6 linked regions of the Homo sapiens genome follow. The protein of the gene in region 4 interacts with the protein of the main gene of each other region in a pairwise test. Each region holds a gene or a part of one and is shown on either strand. Other genes may lie near its edges. The genes, in order: ANKS1A, NPHP1, E2F2, BCAR1, PEAK1 and EFS.

Region 1 (5,205 bases), on a different chromosome or scaffold from region 4:
CAGTTGGGCTGGCACCAGAGTCAGGAGGCACTAGCCTGCTCTGCTCGCCCACACCCAGCCGCCTTGCGTAAGGCCCACCCAGCACCCATGGTGCCGAGCTCGGGCCGCACAACTCACTTTAGCTGTCAGCTGCTGGGGCCACTCCTGTGTCCTGTACTTCCCTCCCTCAGGGGTTCAGATCCCCTGTCCGCTCTTTCTCTGTGGCCTCTTGCGTCCTGCACTGCCTCCCCTGCTGGCCCCAGAGCCCTCTGTGCTCTCCTGGCCTCTGAGCTCCTTCTTGGCCCCTTCCTTCTCTGCTTACCCACGTTGTTCCCCAGAACTGCTTTCCCTGCAGCTTCACCTCGGCAGCATTCTCTTCCTCCTGCTCAGCAAAACCACAGCCAGACCAGATTCTGTTCTTCCTGTTCTCTGCCTGCAGCCCCGTGGGGGGCACCGCTGGAGACGCCTCCTCCGCTCCCGGTGCCCGCTCCAGCCCTGGCGGAGGTGGGCCCGTCTCACACTCCTGGCTCACCTTCTCAGGGCATCATTTCCAGGGGTCCTGGATTTACTCAGGACCTGCCTGTCCTGCCTCCCTCCTTGTACGGACCTTGGCTTTGTCCTTTGTCCTCTTCTTGGCCTGTCAGACACAGGATTAGCAGGTGTCCCTCAGGCCCCTCCGGGTGAACTTCAGCTTCACCCCTGCTTGTTTCTCTGACTCTCACTTCTCACTTCTGGCTCTGGGGACTTCCTTTCCCTTTCTACAAGCACAGCCATGAGTTTTAAAGGATTTTTAAACACATTGTCCAGCAATTCCGGTTGCTGTTGAGAGGCTCTGCGCACTGCTGGGAAGGGAGGGCCTCCGTGTTTCCTGAATCTTTTCCTTCCTCTCCATTCCTTCCACCAGTGCCCTGGACAGGGACCCATGATCTCTCACCTGGACCGCAGTGGCCTCCCCCACCCCCTAGCTGCTGCCAGAAGGATCCATTTGGAATGCATTCCTAGGCACGGGCGGGTGCTTCACTGGCTTCCCCGCTGTGAAGATCCCTCCCAGGCCCTGGGCTGGGTCCCAAGGCGTCCCAGGGTCTCGTGGGCGCTGTTCTCTCCTTTGGTCTTTGTGCAGAACAGCCTGGCAGCCTGTGCCCCCCACACAGACTCTGCCATCTCCTCTCTGGTCATTTCCCATCTCCTTTGAGACTCATCTCGGACACCACAGAGACTGTCCTTCCCAAGCCCTGCTCTCAGGCGGTTTGGGTCCCTGCTGTGCCTCTGCTGTGGCTAGCACCTCCCCTCTCCCGCAGTGTGTTTGAATTGCTGGTCTGCCCCCTGCCATCTCCACTCGACCCTTGAACTTGCTAAGGTCACTGGCATCTTCACCCTTGAGTGTGCTGGAGCCAGGCAGCAAGCCCATGTGCTCCTCTGGAGCAAGGAGCAGGTGTCCAATTGCGTGTGTTTCGCAGGAGGAGCACCGTGAGGCCAAGCTGACCCTGCGGCCCCCGAGCCTGGCAGCCCCCTACGCCCCAGTGCAGAGTTGGCAACACCAGCCAGAGAAACTCATCTTCGAGTCCTGTGGTTATGAAGCCAATGTGAGTTGCTCCCACCCTCCCAGCAGGGCCGGCCTCCCTGCTCCTTCTCGGCCAGGCACCTGCGGCCAAGTCCCAGCAGGGACTCCACAAAGCCAGGCCCAGGGCTTTTGAGCTGTTCTCCACTCTCAGCCACTCTTGACAGCTAAGGCGAAGGGGTGGAGGCCTCTGGATCCTTTAGCTAGGGAGTTGAATGGAGGGTCTCTCCAGCTGGGGCAGGAGAGGGGGTGTTGTTATTGAGAGGGGTAACTACTTGATTGTGGGACAGTCCCAAATTGGTTGGGTCACCCCTGCATGGAAACGCAGGATTTCCTAAGCCTGGCCACTGCTCGCCCCCACAGTATCTGGGCTCCATGCTGATCAAAGATCTGCGAGGGACAGAATCCACGCAAGACGCCTGTGCCAAGATGCGGGTAGGGTGCCTGTGTGGGCTGGAGGGCGCTGTGGGACTGGCCAGCAGAAGGCAGCAATGGGGGCAGTAGCTGCAGTTGCCTGGGCCCTGCTGCACTATGTAAGGATGGGAAGGAAGCTGGGACCTGTGGAAGCCCAGGAGGCTTAGCCCTGAGAAGGGGCACTGACAGGGCCACCCCTTGTTTCCTGTAGAAATCTACGGAGCACATGAAGAAGATCCCCACCATCATCCTGTCCATCACATACAAAGGTGTCAAGTTCATCGATGCCTCCAACAAGGTGTGCTGCTTACAGGGACTCTTGGTGGGAGTGGGACCCACATCCCCGTCAGACCCACAGGGCTCCAGGGCAAGCAACCCGGCTGCCCTGTCTCATCTCTTATCTCCCTAGAGGGTCCCCAGTCCTCTTATTACTTCCCACTTTGCTAAGAGGCGTGTCTCTCATCTGCTGGCCTGGGTGCCTGCTGTCAGCCCCGTCCCCGCCCTAGTGATCACTGCTGTTAGCCTCGCCACCTGGGCTCCACTGGCCGCACACCTGCTCACAGGTGTGATTCCCTCCGTGAGCAAAGGACTTTCTCTGTGTGCCACCGTGTGGGATCCCACCTTCCTGACACCCTTCCCACTTTGCCCCCACCCTGGAAGGTGGGAGGGGCTGGGGAGAGCTTGTGGTTGGGTGTGAACATTTTACTGCCTTAGTTGTTGTGGTAAGGGGTGGAGACCCCAAACCAAAATCGGGGACCCCCACCCCCACCAATAAACAAAATGAGAAGATGAAGGGGGGTTTGCTTGATGCTCTAGGCTGGGACAGAGAACAGTGACAATGGTAACAGGCTGGGGCAGGGGGTGCCAGAGGCATGCCTGAGCCTGAGAATTCCAGAACACGGCTTTCCCCAGCAGAACGTCATTGCAGAGCACGAGATCCGGAACATTTCCTGTGCGGCCCAGGACCCGGAGGACCTCTGTACCTTTGCCTACATCACCAAGGACCTGCAGACCAGCCACCACTATTGCCATGTGTTCAGCACCGTGGATGTGGTGGGTGGGGTCCTGGGGCCGGGTGGGGCAGGCTTGGGTTGCAGCCCTGAGGCGTCCAGCCCCATTGCAGGGCACAGATGCGGCGCTGTCCTGGCCCCTGGCCAGTGCCTGGCAAATGTTTGGTTCATGAATGGAGCCCAGCAGCACTCAGGCCGGTCCCCTTTCACAGTGATGAGACTGACGCGCAGAGGGAACAGGGACTGGCCCAGGGCACTAGGGACAGGAGGTTCCAGCTTTTTTTTTTTTTTTTTAAGAGATGGAGTCTCACTATGTTGCCCAGGCTTGCCTTGCACTCCTGGGTTCAGGCAAGTTACCCACCTCAGCCTCCCACGTAACTGGATAATAGGCGTGAGCCACCGCCCCTGACTTTCCAGCTTTTTGGCGAGTGTTTTCTTAGGTCAGGCAAGGCCTTTGTTTCCCCCGGCTCCCTGCCCTAGGTCTCCAACCTCTGGCTGGGCCGCCTCCCAGAAATGCCCTCTACTTCCCTCTTAGGGGCAGTGGTGCCCTCTTTGGCAGATTTTCTTCCCTCAAATTCCTGCTGAGGCTCGGCTCTGGATGCCACTGGGCCGAGGAGAGTTCATTCTCACACAGCTGCCCACAGGGAGCAGACCAGAACTGACAGCCCACAGGCGGGGGTTCCCTCTAACCTGCAACAAAGCATGAGAGTGGCCCCAGGCTGCTTCCTCACCCCGGGAGGAAGTCAGAGGGGTCCAGGTCTCTGCCGCCCTCAGGGATAGCAGCTGCTTCCAGAATCTCTGTGGCTCCTGGAATACAGGCAGCTCTGGGCATCCCCACACTCCTGGGACCTCATCCACCCCAGTCCTCTGTTTGCTCTGGGCCAGTGAAGGTTAGGAGGAACCAGGCTTTGCTGCTTGCTGGCTGTGTGAGCTTGGAAACATCGCATCTGCCTGCTTCCTCATCTGTCTGGAGGGGATATAATGTGGCCCACCTCAGGGGCCACTGTGAGATGGATGAGGTGGTCCACACAGCACAGTCAGTGGCATTTACCTGTTGCTGACTTTTCCCACATACACTCAGTTCTGCTGTAACGCCACACATACGCTCCTAACAATCACTGTGCTGTGTAAAATCACACAAGGAAAACCACAGGGTTTATGGGGAAATGGAGTTAGGGGCACAGCACTCACAGACTTTGTCGGTGACACATTAAAAATAAAAGCACTAGCACCACTTACATTAAATGGTAAGAAATACCCAAGTACTGCTGCAGGCACGGCACCCTGCCTTGGAAAAGACCTGCCGTAGGCTTACAGCAGTGTGCACCTGCCCTCCCCGCAGCCCAGCTCCCGGCCACATCCTGTGTAGAGCGGGAAGAACAACAGAGACCTAGGAAGAGTAAAGGAGGGAAAGGAGGGAAGAGTGGAAGGAGGTAGGAGCGCTCCCGGGTAGACTTAGAGGGGGACACATGGTCCCTGCGAGGAAGGGCATATCCAGTGTGAAGCGGCTCCTGAACCAGGTGCTTAAGTGGTGATCTGCTTCCTCCCAGAACCTGACCTACGAGATCATCCTGACGCTGGGGCAGGCCTTCGAAGTGGCCTATCAGTTGGCCCTGCAGGCCCAGAAGTCCAGGGCGACGGGCGCCTCTGCAGCTGAGATGATTGAAACAAAATCTTCCAAACCGGTGCCTAAGCCTCGGGTCGGCGTGAGGAAATCCGCAGTACGTGGGCCCCACTGGCCAAGATCCCCCTCTCCCTGGCCCCAGGGATTCAAGGGCTCAGGGTGGTCAGCGTGAGGAGGGTCTTCTGGCACTTCCAGAAAGCTGGCCCTCCAGGGAAATGACCCTCTTAATTGTCCCCCAACCCTGCCAGGTCTCGCCCCTGGAAAGGCAGCAGCTCCTCTGGCCTGGGCGGGCCTCTCATGCTCCTGTTTCCCTCCCTCGCTGGGCTCCCCCAAGGGCAAGGCCGTCAAGGGGCTGCAGAGAGCGGCCTGCAGGCAGCCCCCAGTAACTGCGCCATCCCTGTGTCTGTGTCTGCTTTGCTCTGCACCCCAGGTGCCGCTGCCCCCCGATAGTCGCTGTTGTTACTGTCACACCTGCACCACCCACCGTCCTTCCTACCTACCGCTGCCATCTGTTAGTCCTGGAGTCAAGGTCTTTACGCCTCCTGCTGTCTTGTGTGTCAGTCTCCCCGAAGTGACCGTGAGCGCTCTTAGCCTCTGGCGGCCTCTCCCTCTGCCTGTGT
Region 2 (5,205 bases), on a different chromosome or scaffold from region 4:
GAAATTTATAGCACTAAATGCCCACAAGAGAAAGCAGGAAAGAAATAAAATTGACACCCTAATATCACAATTAAAAGAACTGGAGAACCAAGAGCAAACACATTCAAAAGCTAGCAGAAGGCAAGAAATAACTAAGATCAGAGCAGAACTGAAGGAGATAGAGACAAAAAAACCCTTCAAAAAATTAATGAATCCAGGAGCTGGTTTTTTGAAAAGATCAACAAAATTGATAAACCGCTAGCAAGACTAATAAAGAAGAAAAGAGAGAAGAATCAAATAGATGCAATAAAAAATGATAAAGGGGATATCACCACCGATCCCACAGAAATACCAACTACCATCAGAGAATACTATAAACACCTCTATGCAAATAAACTAGAAAATCTAGAAGAAATGGATAAATTCCTCGACAAATACACCCTCCCAAGACTAAACCAGGAAGAAGCTGAATCTCTGAATAGACCAATAACAGGCTCTGAAATTGAGGCAATAATTAATAGCTTACCAACCAAAAAAAGTCCAGGACCAGATGGATTCACAGCCAAATTCTACCAGAGGTACAAGGAGGAGCTGGTACCATTCCTTCTGAAACTATTCCAATCAATAGAAAAAGAGGGAATCCTCCCTAACTCATTTTATGATGCCAGCATCATCCTGATACCAAAGCCTGGCAGAGACACAACAAAAAAAGAGAATTTTAGACCAGTATCCCTGATGAACCTCGATGCAAAAATCCTCAATAAAATACTGGCAAACCAAATCCAGCAGCACATCAAAAAGCCTATCCACCATGATCAAGTGGGCTTCATCCCTGGGATGCAAGGCTGGTTCAACATACGCAAGTCAATAAACGTAATCCAGCATATAAACAGAACCAACGACAAAAACCACATGATTATCTCAATAGATGCAGAAAAGGCCTTTGACAAAATTTAACAACCCTTTATGCTAAAAACTCTCAAGAAATTAGGTATTGATGGGACGTATCTCAAAATAATAACAGCTATCTAAGACAAACCCACAGCCAATATCATACTGAATGGGCAAAAACTGGAAGCATTCCCTTTGAAAACTGGCACAAGACAGGGATGCCCTCTCTCACCACTCCTATTCAACATAGTGTTGGAAGTTCTGGCCAGGGCAATCAGGCAGGAGAAGGAAATAAAGGGTATTCAATTAGGAAAAGAGGAAGTCAAATTGTCCCTGTTTGCAGATGACATGATTGTATATCTAGAAAACCCCATCGTCTCAGCCTATAATCTCCTTAAGCTGATAGGCAACTTCAGCAAAGTCTCAGGATACAAAGTCAATGTGCAAAAATCACAAGCATTCTTATATACCAATAACAGACAGAGAGCCAAATCATGACTGAACTCCCATTCACAATTGCTACAAAGAGAATAAAATACCTAGAAATCCAACTTACAAGGGATGTGAAGGTCCTCTTCAAGGAGAACTACAAACCACTGCTCAATGAAATAAAAGAGGATACAAACAAATGGAAGAACATTCCATGCTCATGGGTAGGAAGTATCAATATCGTGAAAATGACCATACTGCCCAAGGTAATTTATAGATTCAATGCCATCCCCATCAAGCTACCAATGACTTTCTTTACAGAATTGGAAAAAACTACTTTAAGTTCATATGGAACCAAAAAAGAGCCCACATTACCAAGTCAATCCTAAGCCAAAAGAACAAAGCTGGAGGCATCACGCTACCTAACTTCAAACTGTACTACAAGGCTACAGTAACCAAAACAGCATGGTACTGGTACCAAAACAGAGATATAGACCTATGGAATAGAACAGAGCCCTCAGAAATAATGCCATATATCTGCAACTATCTGATCTTTGACAAACCTGACAAAAACAAGAAATGGGGAAATGATTCCCTATTTAATAAATGGTGCTGGGAAAACCGGCTAGCCATATGTAGAAAGTTGAAACTGGATGCCTTCCTTACACCTTATACAAAAATTAATTCAAGATGGATTAAAGACTTAAATGTTGGACCTAAAACCATAAAAACCCTAGAAGAAAACCTAGGCATTACCATTCAGGACATAGGCATGGGCAAGGACGTCATGTCTAAAACACCAAAAGCAATGGCAACAAAAGCCAAAATTGACAAATGGGATCTAATTAAACTAAAGAGCTTCTGCACAGCAAAAGAAACTACCATCAGAGTGAACAGGCAACCTACAGAATGGGAGAAAATTGTTGCAATCTACTCATCTGACAAAGGGCTAATATACAGAATCTACAATGAACTCAAACAAATTTACAAGAAAAAAACAAACGACGCCATCAAAAAGTGGGCAAAGGATATGAACAGACACTTCTCAAAAGAAGACATTTATGCAGCCAAAAAACACATGAAAAAATGCTCATCATCACTGGCCATCAGGGAAATGCAAATCAAAACCACAATGAGATACCATCTCACACCAGTTAGAATGGCGATCATTAAAAAGTCAGGAAACAACAAGTGCTGGAGAGGATGTGGAGAAATAGGAAACTTTTACACTGTTGGTGGGACTGTAAACTAGTTCAACCATTGTGGAAGTCAGTGTGGCGATTCCTCAGGAATCTAGAACTAGAAATACCATTTGACCCAACTGTCCCATTACTGGGTATATACCCAAAGGATTATAAATCATGCTGCTATAAAGACCCATGCACACATATGTTTATTGTGGCACTATTCACAATAGCAAAGACTTGGAACCAACCCAAATGTCCAACAATGATAGACTGGATTAAGAAAATGTGGCACATATACACCATGGAATACTATGCAGCCATAAAAAATGATGAGTTCATGTCCTTTGAAGGGACATGGATGAAGCTGGAAACCATCATACTGAGCAAATTATCACAAGGACAGAAAACCAAACACTGCATGTTCTCATAGAATACTGTGCAGCCATAAAAAGGAACAAAATCATGTCCTTTGGAGGGACATGGTTACAGTTGGAAGTCATTATCCTCAGCAAACTAATGCAGGAACAGAAAACCAAACTCCGCATGTTCTCACTTATAAGTGGGAGCTGAATGATGAGAACACATGGACACAAGGAGGGTAACAACATACACTGGGGCCTGTAGGAAGGAGGTATTAGAGGAGGGAGAGCATCAGGAAGAATAATTAATGGATGCAGGGCTTAATACCTAGGTGATGGGATGATCTGTCCAGTAAACCAGTATGGCACACGTTTACCTATGTAACAAACCTGCACAATGCCATACATGTATCCCTGAACTTAAAGAAAAAAATAAAAAACAGTAATAAATAAAAAACGTTTTAAAGGGAACAAAAGTCCTTTGTCAAAAGGGTAGCAAAAGAGAAGGGGAAACATCAAACTGGGGCTGACCCTACTAGCAACCTCCCCAAAAGCCCCTTTCCCACCCTTCCTCTTTGCTGGCAGTCAGCTTCCCACTGGCACCTATGTTCTCAGCCTCCACTGCAGGCAGGGTGAGCAGGGGGCCCACGGCTGCCAGTGTAACATAAAACACGTATATTGGGATTGCCTCCCATTTTATCCTCCCTTACCAGGCATGAAAAGAATCTCTCCTACATCTGCTCTTAGATACTGAGGGTATGGACTTTGTAACCATGAGGAGAGACATCACCAACAAGCAAAGGATGGCAGAGTGGAATGACATCAAAGGCTGGTCTTTGAGGATATCACAAGCCATGAATCCACCCTGAGAGAACCTAGCTGCAGGCTTTTGTCAAATGAGACTGACAGTAAAGCCGCTTATTTTGGCAGGTGTCATGTTACTTGACCAAAAAAATCTCTACTGAAACTTAGACTCAGAAATTTCGCTTAAAGCCCAGAGTGGAAAACTATTTTAATATAATGTACCAAGAAAATAAATTACTTATTACAATTACCTCCTTTATAACTATGTAATTATTAAAATCCTCAAACAGTTGATATTTTAAGACTCCTGGTTCAGGATAAAAACTAAGCACACATTCATCTTCACTGGCTCCTGAAACCCCACAAAAAATGATTAAAACGTTTGAAAAGGTAACAAACTCTGAACACTGCAAAGAAGGAAAGAAGGACAACTAGCCAGCAAGAGATTTCAACAAATTTCTGCTCCATGGAAAAAGGCTGGAAGCATGTTCTCCTATAAAGGGTGGAAGACGCAACACAAGCATAAGAGGGAGATAATCTGCCAGGCCGAAAACTCTAGGACTTGAGTCAGCAGACATAAAGGACCAAAGGTTAACTAAACTAAATCATAGAGGGACACATTATGAAATTCTGCTGATGAAAAGACATGCACAGTGGCTGGGGTTTACTTTATAAATTATCTAATATTATTGTGTTATATTGTGTAAATTAAATCATATGCATACATCTAAGCTTTGAGGAGGGAAATCAATGTTAAAGCAATCTAAGGTCTTTATATTAGTCAAGGGAAGATTAATGATACTGATTACGTTTAGATTTAGTTGGGGTTCTTTCTTTTAAAAGTCTATTTACAGAAAACCTGAGCCAGTTAGCTCCCTTTTCCCCTCTCTGCTCTCCCTCCTTACCAGGGGATTCTTCCCTAAAAACAAAAAAACAAACAAAAACAATTAACAAACGACCTGAAGAGAATCATGACTGCTAAAGAAGTTTCCCATACACCAGGGTTAGAGCCGGCCCTATTCTGGCACTGGGGGATCCTCAGACTAAAAGCTACTTCCGAGCCTCTGATAAGCCCTATCAACATACAAAATTTCATTCTTATTCAGGGGATGGTACTAGCAGGAAGGACCCCTCTCTATCTAACAGTAGAAAAGCCCATGAGAGCTCTCTGGAATAATCAACCTAGTCCCTCATTGTTCAATAAAAATAGATAAGCCAGACCTAATAAAGAAAACCGGCAACGTGAAGATAAAATTTAAGAATAACCAAATATAAATTAATTAATTAACTAATTAAAAGGAATCTGAGCCCAGAGAAAGCAAAGACAATTCAGAGAACAGAAGAGAACTTAAGGAGAAAAAAAAAGCCTCCTAGTCATGGAAGTAGTAAGAAGGCAATCAATATGAAAACAGGAACATGATGCTATGAAAAAAGAACAATTCGAGAACAAGAGAAAACACTTGTAAATTAACAACATGACTGATGATGGCCAGGCACGGTGGCTCACGTAATCCCAGCACTTTGGGAGGCCATGATGGGTGGATCACCTGAAGTCG
Region 3 (5,205 bases), on a different chromosome or scaffold from region 4:
CAGGCTGGGCCTGGTGGCTCGTGCCTGTCATCTCAACACTTTGGGAGGCCGAGGTGGTGGATCACTTGAGGTCAGGAGTTCAAGACCAGCCTGACTAACATGGCAAAACCCCGTCTCGACCAAAAATACAAAATTAGCCGGGCGTGGTGGTGCATGTCTATAGTCCCAGCTACTCTGGAGGCTGAGGCAGAAGAATCGCTTGAACCTGGGAGGCAGAGGTTGCAGTGAGCCGAGATCAGGCCACTGCACTCCAGCCTGGGCAACAGAGCGAGACTCCATCTCAAAAAAAAAAAAAAAGAAGAAAAAAAGAAAAGAAAATACCACTCAAAATGTGTCCTGAAGCACTCTGTGGAAGTCGGGAGGCTTCAAGTGTCACTGGCAAGACGGGGGCATGAGCTTGTGTCCTGCACTGAATCTGAGGCTTAGCCTGGGAGGTCTAGCCCCTTGGCCAGGCAAGGTGTGAAAGGGACAGTAGAGGGGGACAGAGGCAGCTGCTGAGCACACGGGGCACAAGCCTGAAGGCAGCTCCCCTGACCAGCCATATGGAGAGGCCTCTAGGGCATGAGCTTACATTCCAGACTTCAGTATTAAACTCATTCCCAATGGGTCCTGCAGGCCCCTTCTTCCTTTTCTCTGATGTAATTCTTGGGGAAAGCTCCAGAGCCCAAGGAATGGGAGTCAAACACCTCTGACTTCAGAGATGGCACATGGCTAAATGGCAGCCCAGTGGAGACCTCAGAGCAGCCCACTCACCACAAACGAGATCCTACACAGGGTCCCTGAGCATGCTGGACTTTAAGACGGGCGTCTGATAAGACCCTTGTGAGTATTTGGGTAGGAGACCAAAAGCATTTCTGCAAAGGGTACACAATTAGCCCTGCTTATAGAGTGGGGGCAGCTGTGACCCGCTGACCACTCCTGGGAGGGGGCTAACTTGGGGGCCCAGGAATTTGAGCAAATGATGAGGCACAATTGTCCCCAGCTGGGCATTAGATCACATTGGGCCCCACCCTGAAATAATCCCTCGTCTCAAACTTCAGACATCAGTCAGTCAGCTCAGGAGCCATCCAACAAAACCAACTTCATATTTTAAACCAGCTTAATGCTACAAACTTTTCTAAAAAGTGCTGTCCAGCTGAGCCTCTGAGAAAACCTAGCTCCCTGAGGGGTGGATGGCAGGCCTCTCAGACCAACCCCTGAGCCTCTCTCCAGAAGTCATAGCCTTGGTTCAGCCCAGAGCACCCACATCCCAGGGTGGGTGGGGGAGAAGAGCAGCTGAGCTGAAGGGACAATGTGGGATGATCAAGCCTCTGGGGGAACAGGCTGAAGCCAAAAGACCCCCTCAGGACCCCAGGCCTGCAGAGGTAACATGAGTTCCTCTCCCCATTAGCTGTGAAGGCCTGGTCTGCCATGAAGACCTCTCTCTGTCACCCCTTCAGTATACCTGGGAAAAAAGGAGTGAACAAGTCACCAAGCCCCAGTCACCTCTGTCCTTGGGGTCTGAGTGAGCTCTGAGGGGTGGAGTCCTTAATGAACCATCCCCTTCAATAACATGGTGAAAAAATTCCTCCCAGGGAAGCAGAGAATGATGCCAGTGCCACATGGGGGGCAGAGGGGATGCTTTTGGCAGTTTTTTGTTTTAATCTGACCCTTCTTTACAGTGGGGCTGCCTCTGCCTACCAAGTCCTTGGTGCAAAATGGCTCCTGGACCAGCGCAAGGCAGAAACTCTGAGGAAAAGTGCCCGCCACAGCCATGACAGCTGCCCCCATGCTCCTGTCTGTTTTCCACGGGAGCTTGTCTCTGCTGGACCATTTTTACATCTCAAGGGGAGAGGTAAGGACTTCCTCAGGAAAGGGGTCTCCTGAGCAGGTGGCTCCTGTTTCCACAGGAGCCTCAGTGCTACCTGCCCTAGGATGGCTCCCTGGGACCATCTCTGGGACAGAGGCGACCAGGAAGCCAAGACCGGCAGCTCAGCTGGAGATGTGAGGCCAAGAACAGGGGAAGAGGCAAAAGGGCCCACAGCTGCCGTTTACTAGAACCATGAGGCCTAAGTGCAATTAGCATTCTAGCAGACTGGACAGCCCCTCAGAGTCCCAGCCCCCACCACAGTGGGGAAACCAAGGATGTAGCCTGGGCCCCTCCCTTGGAAACCCAGACCTGCCCTGGAACATGGACAGTGATGGGCCTGTCTGCAGAGGTCTCACTAAAAACTAGAACAACCTCCCTGCTAAAACTCAGGGAGGACAAACAAACAACTCAACCTGAAATAAATACAAAGGCATTATGTGCTTCTTGGTACGTCGAGGGTCCTAATTACCCCTCAAAAGGAGGTAGCAGGGCCTTTCCCTGGACTTGGCCACCTCACCTGCAGCCTTCTTGTGAGAGGTCAGAAGTCAGAAGACTGGATGGGCCTCCCTAGGCCCAGCTTCCATTAGGAAGGTGAGGACCACCCCTTATCCACTCCTCACCCGTACCATTCATATCTCCCCACACAGCTTCTGCCGGCTGGGGCAGGAAAGGCGAGGAGACCCCATGCCCTGAGGGCAGCACCTAGTGTCCAATGTCCCTGTGCAGGCAGAGGGGCTGTCAGCCTGTCTGTGAGGAGGTAGAGTCGGGGGCAGGCTGCTGGGGGCAGGCAGGGCCACTCAATTAATCAACAGGTCCCCAAGGTCGTAGGAGTCGAAGAGATCGCTGATGCCCTCACCCGCCTCCAAGCCCCACAGGTAGTCGTCCTGGTCCAAGGATGGGGAGAAGCTGATCAGAGGGGAGCTGCACGCCAGGGTCGGGGACAGGAACTGGTCCTCAGTCTGCTGCAGGAGTGGGTGCGGCAGCTCCAGCAGGCTGTCAGTAGCCTCCAAGGGGACCAGGGATGGAGGCGGTGGGGCCTGCTGGGGGGTTGGCGCTGGTGCTGGCACTGGAGACAAACAGACAAAGGTTACGCCTGGCCCTAGCATCCAACTCCTCAGCACGCGAGGACAGACTTCCGGTTCTCTGGATGACTGCACCCTTCTTCTCTCTCCTTAGCCTGGGTGGACTGTCGTGCTCTCAAAATCCACCTTCCAGAGTCTACACCCAACCCTACAACTTTTCATGTATTTTTTATTTTTTTGAGACCGGGTCTCACTCTATCACCCAGGCTAGAGTGCAGTGTTGTGATCTTGGTTCACTGCAACCTCTGCCTCCCAGGTTCAAGCGATTCTCCCACCTGAGCCTCCCGAGTAGCTGGACTACAGGCATGCACCACCACACCCAGCTAATTTGTGTATTTTTAGTAGAGATGGGGTTTCACCATGTTGGCCAGGCTGGTCTCGAACTCCTGACCTCAAGTGATCGGCCTTCCAAAGTGTTGGGATTACAGGCCTGAGCCACTGTGCCCGGCCAAAAAGGAAAGAAATTCTGACACATGCTACAACATAGATGAACCCTGAGGACATTAAACTATGTGAAATAAGCCAATCACAAAAAAACAAATACTGTGTGATTCCACTTACATTAGATACTTAGTCAAAATCGCAGGGACAGAGAGTAGAAGGGTGGTTGTCAGGGGCTGGGCAGAGAGGGGAATGGGGAATAGGTACAGAGTTTCAGTTTTACAAGGTGAAAGGAGTTATGGAGATGAATGGTGATGGTTACACAACATTATGAATGTATTAATTACCACTGAACTGTACATTTAAAAATAGTTATGATGGTAAATTTTTGTTATGTTGCCTCTACTCTCCACCACACACAACTATACCTGACCTCATCACCCTCTCCAATTACTGGCCCATTTTTCTGCTCCTTTGCACAGTAAACTTTCTCCAGAGTAGCCTCAGCTTGTCTCCACTTCCCTATTACTATTCTCTCTTCAACTCACTCCAGTCTGGGGTCTCTCCCCACCATGTCCCTGAGCCAGTGACATCCATGCTGCTAAACCCAATGGTCATTTCTCTGGCTTCATCTTATTTGACCTTTCAGTAGCCATTCTCCAGCACTCTATGCTCATTTCTTTCTCGCCGCCTTCTTTTTTTTTTTTTGAAACAGGGTCTTGCCCAAGCTAGAGTACAGAGTGCAGTAGGGTGAACACGGCTCACTGCAGCCTCAACCTTCTGGGCTCAAGCAATCCTCTCGCCTCAGCCTCCTGAGTAGCTGGGACCACTGGTGCGTGCCACCATGCCCATCCAATTTTTAAACTTTTTTGTAGAGACAGGGTCTCACTCTGTTGCCCAGGCTGGTCTCGAACTCCCAGGCTCGAGCAATCCTCCTGCCTCAGCCTCCCAAAGTGCTGGGATTACAGACATGAGCCACCACACCCAACCTGCTCATTTCCACTTAGATGTTAAGACGGTGATTTCCCATACAGGGACATGCAATGAAGCACTGGAAATTGCCTGCCACATATATCCTGATGCTCAGAATCCCCCACATTGCAGTCACTCCTTAAGCCCCAGCCAAGTATTATTCTGAAGATACAACTGCGCTGGGATGCTAGGCTGCCTGTTGAGACTGGTGGTGCACCCATAGGCATGTGATTTCACATTTTATTTATTTATTTAATTTATTTTGAGATGGAGTCTTGCTCTGGACTTCACGTTTTAGAGCATCCATTTTCTCCCCTCTGCATGGGGCAGCATAGCACTACCTACCTCAAAGGGTTGCTCAGAGGACCGCATGGTAAGTGCATATGAAGCACTGGTTTGGCCTGGTGCGGTGGCTCATGCCTATAATACCAGCACTTTGGGAGGGCGAGGCAGGCAGATCACCTGAGGTCAGGAGTTCGAGACCAGCCTGGCCAACATGGTGAAACACCGTCTCTACTAAAAATACAGAAATTCGCTGGGTATGGTGGCAGGCATCTGTAATCCCAGTTAATAGGGAGGCTGAGGAAGGAGAATCATTGGAACCCAGGAGGTGGAGGTTGTAGTGAGGCAAGATCACGCCACTGCACTCCAGCCTGGGCAACAAGAGCGAGACTCGTGTCTCAAAATAAAAATAAATAAATAAACAAACAAATAAATAAATAAGCACTGGTTTGTCGGGTCTGCATGCTGCCCTTGCTCCTGTTAAAAATTGCTCCCATTTACCAAGGCTAATGGGGGAGGTGGTGGCACTGCCCTTGAGGCGAGGCGTGGTTCAGCCTCCTTGCACACTCAAATGGCCCTGAGGGAGTCCATGCTGTTACCCCTATTTACAGATGAGAAAACTAGGGCCCAAAGAAGTCC
Region 4 (5,205 bases):
GCCTGCTGACCCAGAAGGCTCCACAGAGGAGCATGGGTATGAGCTGATGACACCGGTGGGGTGAGGGGCTGAGGCCCTGGCTCTGGAGGGCACTACCCACAGGCAAGGAACCCCCCGTTACTGGGGCGCCTAGCCCCACAGGACAAGAGGCCACGTCGGAGGCCTGGGAGTCTGCTGCCCACACCACCTAGCTGTAGCCTCCTCAGAAGGGTTGGCCCAGCAGGGGACTGCATCCGGCCCAGGACCAGATAGAGCCTAGCACCCCCTGCCCCACAGCACAGCATGGGGAGACTCTGGAGGACAGGGCCAGAGGGGCAGGTTGGGTGTGTGCTGGGGGGCGCAGCAGCTGGGACCAAGGCCCCCTCCCTGCCGCGCCTGCCCCGGGGGAGCTGCCTGCAGCAGGTAAGATCCCCAGCGACCTGAAAGGATGAGGCCTAGTGGGGGAAGTGGGTCCAGGGCCAGCCCTCCCCTCCCCAGGTGCTCTTACCATGACCCAGAGCCCAGGGAAGCCAAGGCCCGCACAGTGGGTGAAGAGGCAGGCAGCACAATGGCCTGCCCAGGGCCACAGGACCCCTCACCAGCACCAGCCTGAAGCGGGTAGGGGCCATGCCAGGCAGCCTCCTTCCCTGAAGGTCTCCCTGCCTTGGGGAGGTCAAGGCCTCCCTGGTGGGATTCTCCAGCCCCCGGGCACACTGCGCCCACACGCCTCCACCACCAGGCTCCCTGTTCAGCTCTCTCCACTGAAAGACCTTTTGTTCCTTCATCAAAGGGGATGTCTGGGACAGGGTTGACTCAGGGCCTCCCCGCACATCCCCCAGGGCAGCAGCGCCAAAGCAGCCCCTCCCCCGGGCCCAGTGCCCCTGAACCCCTAGAGGCCCTCCCAATGCAGGCAGGCAGCCAGCCCTGCTTGCTGAGGGTGCTGTGAGGGGGGCGCTGAGCATGGGGGTGGCAGAGGCGCCAGCACCCCCCAGCAGCCGCAGGCCTGGCAGAGCCCCCCGCAGCGCAGCAGAACTGGGCCCACTAGGTCTCCAGCACGCCTGGTAGCAGAGTCCCGGCTGGGGGCCTCCGTGGGGTGTCCCCGCCCCCTTCCAGTGCGTCTGGGAGTGGATTTGGCGGCTGCCTCTCCAGACTCATCTCCCTCCACGCGCCCCAGACTTGAGTCTCCTCCAGAACTATTTTTAGATGCAGGGACCTGCCAACAGCGGGGCAGGCGGGGCGGAGGGACGTGGCAGGTTGGCTGGGCCTCGAGGCACGGCCTGAGGCTTCTCCAGGCCTCCCAGCCTCCCAAAGGCAGGTGGGGACCCAGCCTCAAGGCTCAGCCAGGACCCAGCACCAGCAGGAGGGATGAGCATCCTCCAAAAGCACCCTGCCGGTGGCCATCCCAACCTCACGCGGTGAGGCCCAGGGGTGCAGCTGGACCCAGGCCTGCCTCCCCAGGCAAATGGCCGCCTGCCACTCTTGGAGCTGAGTCGGGTGGCAGTAGGCAGCCACAGTGACCAAATGTTTCTGTTAGAAAAACAGAGCAACGCAGCCACCAGGGGGAAAAGCTCTTTAGGGGAATGACTCAGCCCCACTGCTAATCACAGGCCACCCTGCTGCACACCTGAGACCCCACTAGCAGGCCGTGGAGGTCCCCCGGGGGTTAGGGGAACACAGCCAGAGCCCAGGAGGAGAGAACAGAGGCACAGTCACTGACATAAGACCCACACGGTCTCTGACACACATGCCTCATACAATGCAGAGAAAACACAGCACAGGCCCACTGCCAGGTGCACGCACAGAACCCAGGCAGCCCCAGGGCCAGGGTGCCGCCCCTCTCCTCCCCTACTATCAGGCATCAAGCGGGGGGACAAGCGAACTCAGGAATACATCCCAGCCTCCCGGTAAGGGCCCCAGAGGCAGGTGTCAGGTCGGAGGAAGGGGACAAAGTGGGCCCCCGCCCTGGAGCTCAGTGGCTGGTCTCCCCCTTCTGCAAAATGGGTGTCGCCCCTGACCTGGGTTGGCTCCCGGCTCTGGCACCCCCAGGTCCCAATCCAGGAGCCTCGTTTCCTCCTTGGGAAATGGAGCACCACAGGAGCGCTGCGACCACGGCCACCAGGACACACCCCAGCATGAGGGGCTCACCCGACCTGGGTCATGGTGGCCTGAGGGGCCACCACCATAGCCCGCTCCCCTCCCTCCCCAGCTCCAGGCACCCCAGCCTGAGGTCCCAGCACAGGGGAGCCTGGGGCAAGATGAAGCTTCTAGGGCGAGGAGGGTGAAACACAGGCCCGACAGGACCACGTGCACGCCTGACCTCACGCCATGGCTGTCTCCTTAGACACTGACCAGGGGCACTACCTGAGCGACCTCCCACAGACGCCTTCCCCCGGGGGTCCCATCTGACCATGAAAGAGCCTCTGCCCTCAGATTCCTACAGCCCACACCCGGCCCAAAGAGTCTCGGTGCCAGTGTGGCCCTCACCTCTCCCTCAGCCATACGGGCCACCAGGCTCCCACCTTAGCAACCACTGGACCCTGCTCCAGGGCCCAGGGTTCTGACCCTCCTGGCCACCATCCTTGTCACTCACCCTCTTGGCTTCCTGAGAGCCAGTGTCCCTCCCGCCCACGTGAAGTCCTGGCAAGGGCTCCTTCTCAGCCCAGCCAACCACTACCCTGGAACTGGGAGACTCAGTTTCCCAGGCATTTGAGGGGCAGGCCTGAGGCTTGGAGGGGAGCACCTGGAGGTTCAGACACAGATGTCCCGCAGCCAGGTGTTACCGCCGTGCCACCGTAATGAAGGCATGAGCAATCGGAAACTGCCCAGGGCCCGCCCCAGCAGAGGGGGCAACCCAGCAAAGTCCAAGGCGGCTCAGGGACAAGCTTTAAGAATTCAACAAAATGCTTTTGATATCTAATGTTGGATTTACAACTTTGAAATGCAAAACTGCATGTATAAATCTGTGAAACACAGGGCAGATACTAGACAAAATATGCCAGAATTTCCCAGTGATTACCGCGATTGGAAAATTTCATCTCCAGACTTTCCCATACATTATGCATTTTCTACAGCAAACAAGCATTGCTTTTGTGATCATAAAATACAAGCAGACACAATCAAGACTGGGGGAGGTTTCCTGGGGGAGAGCAGCCAGGCCCAGGACACAGGGCTCTCCTTCCTGGGCCATCAGCCAGGTCAGGGCCCTTGGGGCACAGGTCTGGGCAGCTCTACCAGTGGGCATGGGCAGAGAAGGACCCAGCTGGCTGAGCCCCTGATGCAATTGAGAGCAGGCCCCCTGCCGGAGACGGAGACAGAACAGCTGCCAAAACACAGCCTCGAGGCCGGGCTCTGTCTGGGGGTCTCGCTGCTGCTCCCCAGCCCACAGGGCTTCCAGCCGCACCAGGACAAGCTTCACTGCAAAGGCGGGAGAGGAGGGGTGGGGATGTGCCTGACCTTGGGGCATGTGCAGTGTGGACTGTGTGTGCGTGTGCATACGCACATACATTTGTACGTTTGTGGGATACTGGTGGGTGCACACGCTTTGTATGTGTGGACGTACACGTGTCTGTGTGTGGGGTGAGTATGCACGTGTGTTTACACATATGGGGTTTGGGTGTGTGCGTGTTCATGCATATGATGTGCGCATGTGTGGGCGTATACGTGTGTCCATTTATGGGGTATGGGATGCAGATATGTGCATGTATTCACGCACATTCATGTAGCGCATGTGTGTGTTCGTGCATATGGTGTGTGCATGGGTGTTCGTATCTGTGGGGTACAGGCATCATGCACGTGTGTTCATCTGTGTGGGGTGTGGGTATACCTGGACTGTGGCCTGAGGCTCCCCTACAGGACACTGCTCCCTGCCGCCTCCCCAGGGGATAACAGGACCCTGCTCCTCTTGCTAAAGCCAGTTTGGGAGCACCCCCACCCAGGCACCCCACGCCAGCCAGGCTCGCCTCTGACCAGATGGCTGAAGGAGCAGGTAGAGCAGGAAGTGGGAGCCAGTGACCCAGGTTCCCCTGGTGGCCAGGCTTGGTGGCCCATGTCCATGGAGTCCCCCACCCGCCAACGACCTCCGGCCATGCCTCCTGGGTACCAGGCCACCCATGGGCGGGGGTGGGGGTAACTCCCAGCTGACTCGCTGCCCAGCTGGCACCAATGAGGTCTCCACCTCAGCCCTGGGCTGAGTGTCTAGTGCTGACTCCTTCCTACAGGCAGGTGAGCTTGGGAGGCAGGGGCCCTGTGGACTTGGGAAGCGGGCTCAGGGTCTGGAGGCCAGAGGTCTTGTCCCCAGGCCCAGCATCCCATCAGCAAGAGCCCAGGAGGCTCTCAGGGCAGTCCTCCTCTAGCAATCTCAGGGGCAGCGTCCTCCCAGGAGTCACATCCAGATCACCATACGCACCCGCTGGCCCCTAGCATGTTCCATAAGTGGAGAGGGGTTGGCCTGTGGAGGCAGGGGCGGCCAGAAGATGTGCCGGAACCCCATCTAGAGGCTGACACGTAAACCCAGATGGCACAGGGGAGCCTGAGCATGAAGTGGCTGGCCTCTCCCTTGCGGGGGCCCAGCAACTGCCGACCCCATGTGCCAAGCCCCGCCTGCCCACTGGAACGCCTCAACAGGCTGCTCCCTGTGGTTGGTGACACCACCACTCGGGTCGGCTTGGCTGAGGCCAGCGGAGCATCTCCCCTCTGGGTCCATTCACATCCATCTTCCCCGGACAAATGAACACCCCCCAAACACTCACTTCCCACTTTGACCCCAGACCAAACACACAGCCACTCCTGGAATGCCGGTGATTGAGGGTGGCTGGACCCTTCTGTGCCCACAAACCAGGGCCTGGGCTATACCTGTGTGGCTGCACAACTGTGCCAGGACAGCCTTACCTTTGCCGGGGGCTTCGTGCCCTCCCAGCTGCGTGTGTCCATGGACGGGGGGACCTGGTAGATGTCATGCCCCATCCCGGCAGAAGGTGGCACCTGGTAAATATCCTGGGCAGGGCCTCCAGGCCCTGGGGGCACCTGGTACAGGTCTGTGGCCGGGCTGGGAAACGGGTGATGGGGTGTCTGCTTCGAGAAGGTGGATGTCTGCTTGGCTGGGGGAGACTGGAACTGAGGGCTGGGACCCGGGACTTGGTAGAGGCCTTGCTGAGCCTTGCTGGGAGTGGGCACCAGGTAGACGCTGTCTGGCTGGGGCTGGTAGGTGTTGGGGAGCATGGGCGTGTA
Region 5 (5,205 bases), on a different chromosome or scaffold from region 4:
GATTCTAGGGCTGAGGTAGGAAAAAAAAACAAGATGAACCTGAAGCATGTGGTAGTGTCAGAGAATAAAGAAGTGTGCATGTACATACGCATAAAAAAAGGATAGAAATATGCCAAAAAGACACAGAAGTAGACCTAAAAGAGATCCCAAGGGCCAAAACTGGAATAATTTGAGCAACAAAATAATGATAGCATTTAATTCTAACACTAAGAATAAAATAAATATCTATGAATTTGAACTGAGATAAATGATTAGATAGAAGGGAAAACCTTCCTTATAGAAGAATTCTAATTAATAAATGTAGAAAGAATGAGGAAAATTTAAAAAAGTACCTTCAGAAGCCACAGCAATAATTGCTGCAGGCAAGATCCACTAATGAATGCTAAAATTAGTGGGCAGAAACAGGATACTGGCAAAGCCTCAAAGTAGCTCTCTCAAAATATTTACCAATTACTGTGGTGGTTTTAATATATGTCCACAAATTCTTTTATACTTCTCCCTCCAGGAAGTGGAGTTTAATTTCCATCCCTTTAAGTGTGGGCTACACTTAGCAACCTGTTTCTAGTGCACGGACTATGGGAAAGGAAAAATAGTAACTTTACAGTGGACAAACCTAGCAGAAACCACCGTAACAGAGTGCTCACAAGTGATAAATTATTTGATATCATGCACCTCCTGTATGAAATAATAGGGGCACTTCACCTTTGCAGTACTCTCCCCCAAAATCCATAACCCCAATCTAATCATGAGAAAACATCAGACAAACCTAAACTGAAGAACATTCTACAAAATACTTGTGTCAAGGTTATAAAAGATAAGAAAAGACCAAGAAACTGCCACACATTGGGAGAGACAAAGAAGACAACTAAAGCAATGCAATATCAAGGTTTGGATAACAGAATGGAAAAAGAATACTAGAAAAACTGGTAAAATATTAAAGCAGTTTGAAGCTTGGTTGAAGCATCGTACCAATACTAATTTCTTAGCTTGATAAATGCACCATGGTTATGTAGGATGTTAACATTAGAGGAACCCAGGTGAAGAGTATATAGCAGCAGTTTTTCTGTTTGTTTCTTTGAGACAGGGTCTTACTCTGTTGCCCAGACTGGGGTGCAGTGGTGCAATCATGGCTCACTACAGCCTCTACCATCCAGGCTCAAGTGATCCTCTGACCTCAGCCTCCTAAGTAGCTAGGCCCACAGGCACATGCCACCACACCCGGCTAATTTATTATAGTTTTTAGAGATGAGGCCTCCCTATGTCGCCTAGGCTGGTCTTAAACTCCTGGGCTCAGACGATCTTCCCACTTCAGCCTCCCATAGTACTGGGATTACAGGAATAAGCCACCACACCCAGCCTGCATTTTCTTTCTTTTCTTTCTTTCCTTCCTTCCTTCTTTCTCTTTCCTTCCTTTCCTTCTGTCTTTCCTTCCTTCTTTCCTTCTTTTTTTTTTTTTTTTTTTTGAGACAGGGTCTTGCTCTGTCACCCAGGCTGGAGTGCAGTGGCACAATCACAGTTCACTGCAGATTGAACCTCCCAGGCTCAAGTGATCCTCCCACCTCAGCCTCCTGAGTAGGTGGGACTACAGGTGTGCACCACCATGCCTAGCTAATTTTTTGTATTTTTTTTTTTTTTTTGTAAGCGACGGGGTTTCACCATTTTGCCCAGGCTGATCTTAATGTCCTGACCTCAACCCACCTTGGCCTCCCAAAGTGCTGGGACTACAGGTATGACCCACTATGCCAGGCCCAATTACTGTATTTTCTATCTTATCCTCTGACTTGAAACGAACATGGTTTGGACAAGAAAGAATGGGCTTTGAATCCTGGTTCCATCACTTGACAGGGTGTGTCTGAATATGTTATTTAACCTTTCTAATCCTCAGTTTCTTCATCTGAAGGAGAACAAAGGAAATAATATAAGGTAAATAACAAAATTGTTGAGTTAGTGTTAGGATCAGAATTAGGTATTAAAGTGTCTAGCACATAGGAGGTACTCCACAAATAGAAGCTAGTATTATTTGCTCTTCATTTGCTCTACAGCTTCACACTGACTTCTAGCATTTCATGCTCCTCATTTTCTCCCAACTGGATCACCTCCTTACAGGCTTCCAGCTCATAATCCAGGAGGACTCCATAGTTCTTCAGTAGAGCTACAATACTCAATATCATTAATTCCCTCAACCAACTGTCCTTCAGATATCTCTACCAAACAGATATCTACAAAGCAGCAGATAACAGCCTGGGCAGAATTTAAACCCAAGCTGTTCATCTTACAAACAAGGAGAGTAACAGTAACAATACATAACTCATAAGGTTCTTGAGAGTATTAAATAGTTTCTTCAGATAGTCTGATCACTCACTGCTGGAGAAAAATCAACCACGAAAATTGGTACTGCTACAAATGTGAGGTCTACAATCTGAAATAAACAGGTCCTCAATGCTAACTAACAATCCTTCTTCAGTTTCCTAGTCATGTAACTAACAATCCTTCTTCAGTTTCCTAGTCATGTGTCTGTTTACCTCTCTCTCCCTTACCTCCACCCCATCCACTGTTAGCCATTCCCTTGGAAGCCGTTTACAAAGAGTATGTATAAACTACAGACTATCTTTTTTTCCATTCCTTTCACAGGGGTGGATTAATTTTACCTGGCTTTTTTGTTTGTGTGTGTGTTTTTTAAGAGATAGGGTCTCATTATGTTGCCCAGGCTGGCCTTCAACTTCTGGGTTCAAGCGATCCTCCTGCCCCAGCCTACTGAGTAGATGGGACTACAGGCACATGCCACAGCACTTGGCCTCACATACATTGTTTAAAAACTCCTATTCTACCACGTTCCCTTCACTCTTAGCAGATGATCAAAAATTACACAAGACATGTCATCAACTCTTCCTTCCTGCCCTGTCAGTTACAAACTTATTTACATTGCCATCCATCTCCTTCCTTTCTGCTCACTGGAAAAGTGAGACTACCTTCTACTTAAGACCAACTTCTCTGCCTACGCCCTGGATCCCATTCCTTATTACCTTCAAATCCTTGTCTCCATCCACCAGCCAGTCTCCCACGCCCACCAAACACACACATATACACTCTTCTTCAGTTTCTCCTCTCCAGTGGCTCTTTCCAGGCTCACATTAAGAATGTCCAAGATTCTCTAAATCCCAAGTATCTCCCCCTGCTTAAAGACTCCTTCAGAGTCCTTTGTTGAAAACATTGTACCCCTCTCAATTAGCTACACTTACAGTTGTCATTCACTTTTCAACACCCACCCCCATGCATTACAATGTAGCTAAGTGCTCTAGCTGAAGTTATAAAAGACATCCTAATCACCAAGTCTCAGAGACTTCATTAGGTCTTTATCTTACTTTTCCTTTTGGAGGCAGGATACAGTGTTGACCACTCCTAGCCCTTGAAATAATATTCTCCCTCAGCTTCCATGACAAATCTCTATTTCCTTTTTTCATCTTTGGTCTGTCTGGCACAGATGGTTGGCTTCTCTTCAGCTGCTTGCCCAATCTACTCAGCGGATCACAACAGAAATGTAGGAATCATCCAAAATCTTCAATCTTGCTCAATTCTATAATCTAAATAGATTTATCCTGTCCCGTTAATAATACTTCCTAAATCTCTCATAGAGCCACTCCCTCTTCTACACTCTTCATCATTTCTCACCAGGAATAGCTTCCTAACTGGTCCTTGCTTCCAGTTTTGTCCCTCTCTAATTCAATATTCACTTCACTGTCAAAATGACAGGTCTAAAATACAAATCTGATTCTACCACAGCATAATTTTTTTTCCCCACTAAATCCCCGCAACTTTTGGAATTAAGTTAAAGTTATTAACTTGGTTCACAAGACAATCATTGATTTGGCTTATTACTTCATCCACCCCTGTTCTAAAGCTGTGCTGCTGCTGTCCACTCACCTGCAGCTATTGAGTATGTGAATGTAGTTGTCCAAATTGAGATGTGCTATAAGTGTAAATTACACACCAGATTCTGAAAACAGTAGAAAATTATGCACCAGATTCTGAAGACAGTATGAAAATGGAAATGTCATATTTCAATATTACTTTTTATACTGAATGCATGTTGAAATGATATTTTGGATATACTGAGTTTATATTATTAAAATTAATTTCACTTTTTACTTTTTAAAATTTGGTTACTAGAAAATTTTAAATTGTATATGTAACATATTTGTGGCTTGTATTAAATTTTATAGGACAGCACTGGTATAAGATGTACTTTCCCTCTTTCTGGACCTAGTTAACTCTTACCTATTATTGAAGATTAGCTCAGGTAACACTCTAAGATGCATTCTAGACACCCTCCACCCATCCCCCGAAGTCTGAGTCAGCTACCCCTCCTCTGTGCTTCCATCCATAGGAATGTGTGCATGCCCCTGTCATACTATAATTATTGGTTATCACCTATCTTCTCCTCCTCAACTGTAAACTCCTTGCAAAAAGGAATCTCATATTCTATAATACTCAGGTCCTACCTACCACCATGCCTGGCACTTAAAAGGTACTCAAACATTTGTCAAACAAATGTAAACTATCTATTCCTGGCCTGAAGGTTACTAGGATTTCTACTTCACTAAGGAAAACAAACCAGCCTTGAGGGAACCTAGAAAGTACCAGGAGCTTTAGTAATGAAAGGACTAGGAAGGAGAGTGGGGTGGGGGGATGCGGGGCGGGGGGGGAGGGGGGCAAGAGGTAGGAATCACAGTAAAGAGATCAGCAAATGACAGAATAACGCTCATCACACACATCTGCCTCTTACACTGAAAACAGGGATTTGCAACACTGATATGGAGCCTTGTACTCACACTTGGCATGCCAGGGGCCACAGTTTGGTTACTAAATTACTTAAACAACCCATCCAACAAAAGGGTATGATTTGGCAGGTATCAACACAAATGGCTAGGGCCCAGCACCCGTTCCACTTAAACAGCACATCAGTACAGTTAAAAAGAACAACAAATCTCTCTCATGAAGCAAATGCTAATCTCATGATGCTTCACCACGGAACAATTTAGAAGAGTTATTATATGAAATGTGCCAAAGCATGAATTTATAGCTGATGCTTATTTGGCAAATATGGTTGGCACTGCTAGATGTTGAAAAACATGTATGCAAATAAGCAAATAAAAGTTTTTAAGCTCTCAGACTTAAATATTTACATTACCATAAATGTACAAAGAT
Region 6 (4,838 bases), on a different chromosome or scaffold from region 4:
AATGGATATGCGCATATGGAATTCTACAGAGAAGGAAATTGAGACTCAGAAAGGTTAAACAATCTGCCCAAAGGAACCTGGCTAGAAAGGGACAGACCTGGCTGGGCGCAGTGGCTCACACCTGTAATCCCAGCACTTTGGGAGGCAGAGGCGGGCGGATCATGAGGTCAGGAGATCAAAACCATCCTGGCTAACACAGTGAAACCCCGCCTCTACTAAAAATACAAAAAATTAGCCGGGCGTGGTGGTGGGCGCCTGTAGTCCCAGCTACTCGGGAGGCTGAGGCAGGAGAATGGCGTGAACCCGGGAGGCGGAGCTTGCAGTGAGCCGAGATCGCACCACTGCACTCCAGCCTGGGCGACAGAGCAAAACTCCGTCTCAAAAAAAAAAAAAAGAAAGAAAGAAAAAGAAAGGGACAGACCTCCAAGCAGTGGGTCGCAACGGTAATCCCAGGTATTTAGGAGGCTGAACCCAGGCATTCGAGGTTACAGTGAGTTATGATTGTGCCACTGCACTCCAGTCTGGACCACAGATCAAGAGCTGATCTCTAAAGAAATATTTTAAATAAAATTTTAAAAGAAAGAGACACAGCCAAGACTCAAGCCCAGGTCTGCCTCTAGAACTGTGCTTTTAATCCCCTGGCTAGATCCAAAAGACTGATTTATAATTTACAACTAAAAAGAAAAGTGCAGCACTAACCGGGAATTTGTGTCATCTGGTTAGCACGTTTCTTTGTGTGGGACAATATCCTTTAGAAACCAAAATATAATCAGAAAATGGTTTGATGAGTTGGGAATCAGGCAAGAAGAGGGGTCAATTTGTTGTTAAAATCACCCAGCCATGAGAGGCCGGATAACCTCACCACCAGAGGGAAACATCAGCTAAGAGGAATATGCACTCCTGCTGACTCTAGCAGGGCATCCTTCTCCCCAGGGTCTGGTGGCAGCCTGCCTGAGATCTTTAACTTTGAGATTTTTTTGCTGAATTAGTCAGTCCGTTTGGCTACCTGGCTAGTAATGCCTAACTAGCTGCTCTCCAACACTACATGTAAGTCACCACTGCCTGGGATCCTACCAGCAAGCATCATCATTTAGCAATCAAAACTGAAGCTGAATGTAATTGTATGTTTTGAGTGGTTTTAGCTTGATTCTACCAAATGACATCATGGAGCAAGAGCACTGCGAAGGGTTATAGCAAAGGGAAATAGGGTATAAGAAGGCTTTCCTATGCGCTTGACTTGCTTTTGAGTTAGGGACCCTCTCAGCCACTGTTACTACTCTTTCTTTTAAGTAGATTCCTACATTTGTAATTGTGGAGAAGCAGTAGCACAAGTGATTGAGAGCGCAGGCTCTGGGATCAAGCAGCTTAGGGTTCAGATTATGCTCCACAAGCTGTGCCAGCGATATGGCATCAGACAAAGTACTAACCTCCCTCTTCCAGTTTTCTTTCCAAAATGGGGTAATGACAGTCCCTCCCTCGTAAGGTTGTTGTGAGAATTAAATGAGATGAGTTGATTAATGCAAAGATTTGCACAGTGTCTGGAAACGTTGTTTGCACTTGGTACCTGTGAGTTATTACCTGAGCCTGTGGCCCTTGATGGAAAAAGCTTATAAGCCCCCACCAGACAGGACTGGAAACAGAATGATACATGTTTCCTTTTGGTTGGCCTGCCAACCCCCTTCACACACACACACAAAGACACACTCTGTCCTGCAATGGAAGGGCCCATTGCTAAATGATGATGCCTGCTGGAAGGATCCCAGGCAGTGGTGACACACACACAAGAATACACACTTTTCTCCATGGTAACCTCAGCCTCTTCTGGTAGAAACTTATTTGCTCAGACTGAGAGCAAAACAATTGCTTTGTTTCTGTTTTCTTTCTTATTATGCCTAGGCACACTGTCTGGACTAGGCCTCTCCCAGTCTCTCAGAATGAGAGGTCTCTGTGGCTGCTTAATCTAACCTTTTGCTAGTGAGGGATAATGACTTGGGAACAGAGAGAAGGTCTATGAGAGACTGTAGCAGGGCTTCACATGTTTTGGAAGACATTCATTCAACATGTGTAATGACCAATTCCAGGTCAGGCCTTATTGCAAGGACTAGAAATATAGCCGTTCCTATGTTCATAGGGTTTACAGTATAAGGGAAGAAATCGATACAAAAGAAGCAAATAGACAAATAGTATAAAGTACGAGGATGGAAACAATAGGTGGAGACAAACAGAGAATGGGGCGGGGAGAAGAGTAAAGAATCGGCCTCTCTGAGGAGAGCTGGTCTAGTTGAAGGAACTGAAAGGAAGAGGGAGAATGCAAGCGGTGAAGCTGGAGAGAAGCTAGGGCCCAGGCAGAAAGCTGCATCCAGAGTTCAGGTTTTTTAGCTTGAGGGAAATGCGGAGCTCCGAAGGGTTCTAAGCAGGGGTGACGTGACCTGAAAGGGGTCTGAAGACCCTTCTCCCCACTCCCACCTCCCCAACCAGACCCAGCTGGCCCGGGCACTGTATGACAACACCGCTGAGTCCCCCCAGGAGCTGTCCTTCCGCCGAGGGGATGTCCTACGGGTCCTGCAGAGAGAGGGCGCTGGTGGACTGGACGGCTGGTGCCTCTGCTCCCTACACGGCCAGCAGGGCATTGTGCCCGCCAACAGGGTGAAGCTCTTGCCTGCTGGCCCAGCACCCAAGCCCAGCCTCTCTCCTGCGTCCCCAGCCCAGCCTGGCTCACCATATCCAGCCCCAGATCACAGCAATGAGGACCAGGAGGTGAGAGTGGGAGCCTCCCCAACCCCAAGCCAGAAGAGCCCCATTCCTCCCCAACTAGCCCCACCCAGGGCCTGCAGCAGGTGGGCAGGAAGAGCCCTGAGGCCACAGCTCTTCACTGCTCTGCGCTGGACGAAACCTGTCTACCAACCTTTCTGAGCTGTGGCCCTCTCGATACAGGGAGAGTTAGAAGGTCTCTAAGCTCCTCGCACTCAGACATTATCTGATCACCGGCCCCTCCGTTCCTCCTGACCCCCCATCTATTTGATCCCTCAGGTGTATGTGGTGCCGCCCCCAGCTCGGCCCTGTCCAACCTCAGGACCTCCAGCTGGACCTTGCCCACCCTCTCCTGACCTCATCTACAAAATCCCCAGAGCTAGTGGGACCCAGCTGGCTGCTCCCAGAGATGCCTTGGAGGTGAGGGCTAGAGGTCCCTGTGTATGTTGGGTGGGAGACAAATGGCCCCAAGGGAGGGTTCATCGCTGAGCTGACAGATGACTGACCACTCCTTTCCGCAGGTCTACGATGTGCCCCCCACCGCCCTCCGGGTGCCCTCCAGTGGCCCCTATGACTGCCCTGCCTCCTTTTCCCACCCTCTGACCCGGGTTGCCCCGCAGCCCCCTGGAGAGGATGATGCTCCCTATGATGTGCCTCTGACCCCAAAGCCACCTGCAGAGCTGGAACCAGATCTGGAGTGGGAAGGAGGCCGGGAGCCGGGGCCCCCCATCTATGCTGCCCCCTCCAACCTGAAACGAGCGTCAGCCTTACTCAATTTGTATGAAGCACCCGAGGAACTGCTGGCAGACGGGGAGGGCGGGGGCACTGATGAGGGGATCTACGATGTGCCTCTGCTGGGGCCAGAGGCTCCCCCTTCTCCAGAGCCCCCTGGAGCCTTGGCCTCCCATGACCAGGACACCCTGGCCCAGCTTCTGGCCAGAAGCCCCCCACCCCCACACAGGCCCCGGCTCCCCTCAGCTGAGAGCCTGTCCCGCCGCCCTCTGCCTGCCCTGCCTGTCCCTGAGGCCCCCAGCCCCTCCCCAGTGCCCTCTCCTGCCCCAGGCCGGAAGGGCAGCATCCAGGACCGGCCTCTGCCCCCACCCCCACCCCGCCTGCCTGGTTATGGAGGCCCCAAGGTCGAGGGGGATCCAGAGGGCAGGGAGATGGAGGATGACCCAGCAGGACACCACAATGAGTACGAGGGCATTCCGATGGCCGAGGAGTATGACTATGTCCACCTGAAGGTGAGCGCCCCTTGGCAGCCCCACCAGGAGGGACCCCAGAGGGACCAAGGGGAGGGGTGTGGAGACCTAGGGCACAGAGGCAGAGCCTCCCTGCCTCCCTTCTGTCCCCCTTCCCTCTACCCTGCAGCCTGGGACCCCAGTACTTGGCCACAACACTTGTACCAGTGCCACACTGTTCCTCCTAGACCCAGCCTGGGGCCACCAGAGCTCTCTGGAGTCAAGGGACTACAACCTCTGATAACAGGAGTGTCCTTCGGAAGGAAGGGGGTCCGGGGAAGGGGCAGAAAGGCCACAGAGGCCACCCCGTCCTGCTCCCCCACCCCGACACTGAGACCTGATCCCCTCCTGCAGGGCATGGACAAAGCTCAGGGATCTAGGCCCCCGGATCAGGCCTGCACAGGGGATCCTGAACTGCCCGAGAGGGGGATGCCGGCGCCGCAGGTGACCCTGGCGGGAATGGTGCTAGAGAAGGGGACAGGGGAGGGAGGAATGGGGACTTGGGAGAAGAACTGAGCCATCAACCGTGGAAGGAAATAGGTTAGGATGGAGTGAGAGTTCACAGGAACCAGGGACAGAGCGGAGGCAAGTTAGAAATCTACAGGAAGGAACTGGACCTTGGAAGAGGATGTTAGGAATTCAGAAAGAGGGGAAAGAATGTGTTGGAGAGGAGTCAGAAAATCAAGCAGCCAGGAGAGCAGAAAGTTTCTGAGTTGTGGGGTCAGAGCTGGGCCTGGGGACTTCTGAGCCTCCTTCCAACTGTGAATTCCTGGGCTCCTAAGAGACCTGGCTTCTAATCCCAGCTTCACTACTGAGAAGCCAGGGGCTTTGAAGCCGTCAGTTAAT

What was found.
Region 1: the proteins of BCAR1 (region 4) and ANKS1A interact in a two-hybrid assay, tested with the Homo sapiens proteins (one large-scale study listed by BioGRID).
Region 2: the proteins of BCAR1 (region 4) and NPHP1 interact in a two-hybrid assay, tested with the Homo sapiens proteins (2 studies listed by BioGRID).
Region 3: the proteins of BCAR1 (region 4) and E2F2 interact in a two-hybrid assay, tested with the Homo sapiens proteins (one large-scale study listed by BioGRID and IntAct).
Region 5: the proteins of BCAR1 (region 4) and PEAK1 interact in binary tests that used the Homo sapiens proteins (3 or more experiments, as listed by UniProt).
Region 6: the proteins of BCAR1 (region 4) and EFS interact in a two-hybrid assay, tested with the Homo sapiens proteins (one large-scale study listed by BioGRID and IntAct).

Annotation. Positions count from the first base shown.
Region 1 is NC_000006.12:35,081,255-35,086,459, forward strand, and holds part of ANKS1A (ankyrin repeat and SAM domain-containing protein 1A), read left to right. Parts: intron 1-1,436; coding exon 1,437-1,562; intron 1,563-1,900; coding exon 1,901-1,972; intron 1,973-2,162; coding exon 2,163-2,249; intron 2,250-2,863; coding exon of another isoform or gene 2,864-2,866; coding exon 2,867-3,004; intron 3,005-4,511; coding exon 4,512-4,682; intron 4,683-5,205. UniProt on the Homo sapiens protein: Regulator of different signaling pathways. Regulates EPHA8 receptor tyrosine kinase signaling to control cell migration and neurite retraction.
Region 2 is NC_000002.12:110,194,019-110,199,223, forward strand, and holds part of NPHP1 (nephrocystin-1), read right to left. Parts: intron 1-5,205. UniProt on the Homo sapiens protein: Together with BCAR1 it may play a role in the control of epithelial cell polarity. Involved in the organization of apical junctions in kidney cells together with NPHP4 and RPGRIP1L/NPHP8. Does not seem to be strictly required for ciliogenesis.
Region 3 is NC_000001.11:23,507,234-23,512,438, forward strand, and holds part of E2F2 (transcription factor E2F2), read right to left. Parts: intron 2,916-5,205; coding exon 2,647-2,915; 3' UTR 1-2,646. UniProt on the Homo sapiens protein: Transcription activator that binds DNA cooperatively with DP proteins through the E2 recognition site, 5'-TTTC[CG]CGC-3' found in the promoter region of a number of genes whose products are involved in cell cycle regulation or in DNA replication.
Region 4 is NC_000016.10:75,237,604-75,242,808, forward strand, and holds part of BCAR1 (breast cancer anti-estrogen resistance protein 1), read right to left. Parts: coding exon 4,867-5,205; intron 1,058-4,866; exon of another isoform or gene 491-1,057; coding exon of another isoform or gene 488-490; intron 1-487. UniProt on the Homo sapiens protein: Docking protein which plays a central coordinating role for tyrosine kinase-based signaling related to cell adhesion. Implicated in induction of cell migration and cell branching. Involved in the BCAR3-mediated inhibition of TGFB signaling.
Region 5 is NC_000015.10:77,412,765-77,417,969, forward strand, and holds part of PEAK1 (inactive tyrosine-protein kinase PEAK1), read right to left. Parts: intron 1-5,205. UniProt on the Homo sapiens protein: Probable catalytically inactive kinase. Scaffolding protein that regulates the cytoskeleton to control cell spreading and migration by modulating focal adhesion dynamics. Acts as a scaffold for mediating EGFR signaling.
Region 6 is NC_000014.9:23,358,474-23,363,311, reverse strand, and holds part of EFS (embryonal Fyn-associated substrate), read left to right. Parts: intron 1-2,478; coding exon 2,479-2,757; intron 2,758-3,030; coding exon 3,031-3,171; intron 3,172-3,272; coding exon 3,273-3,995; intron 3,996-4,346; coding exon 4,347-4,436; intron 4,437-4,838. UniProt on the Homo sapiens protein: Docking protein which plays a central coordinating role for tyrosine-kinase-based signaling related to cell adhesion. May serve as an activator of SRC and a downstream effector. Interacts with the SH3 domain of FYN and with CRK, SRC, and YES.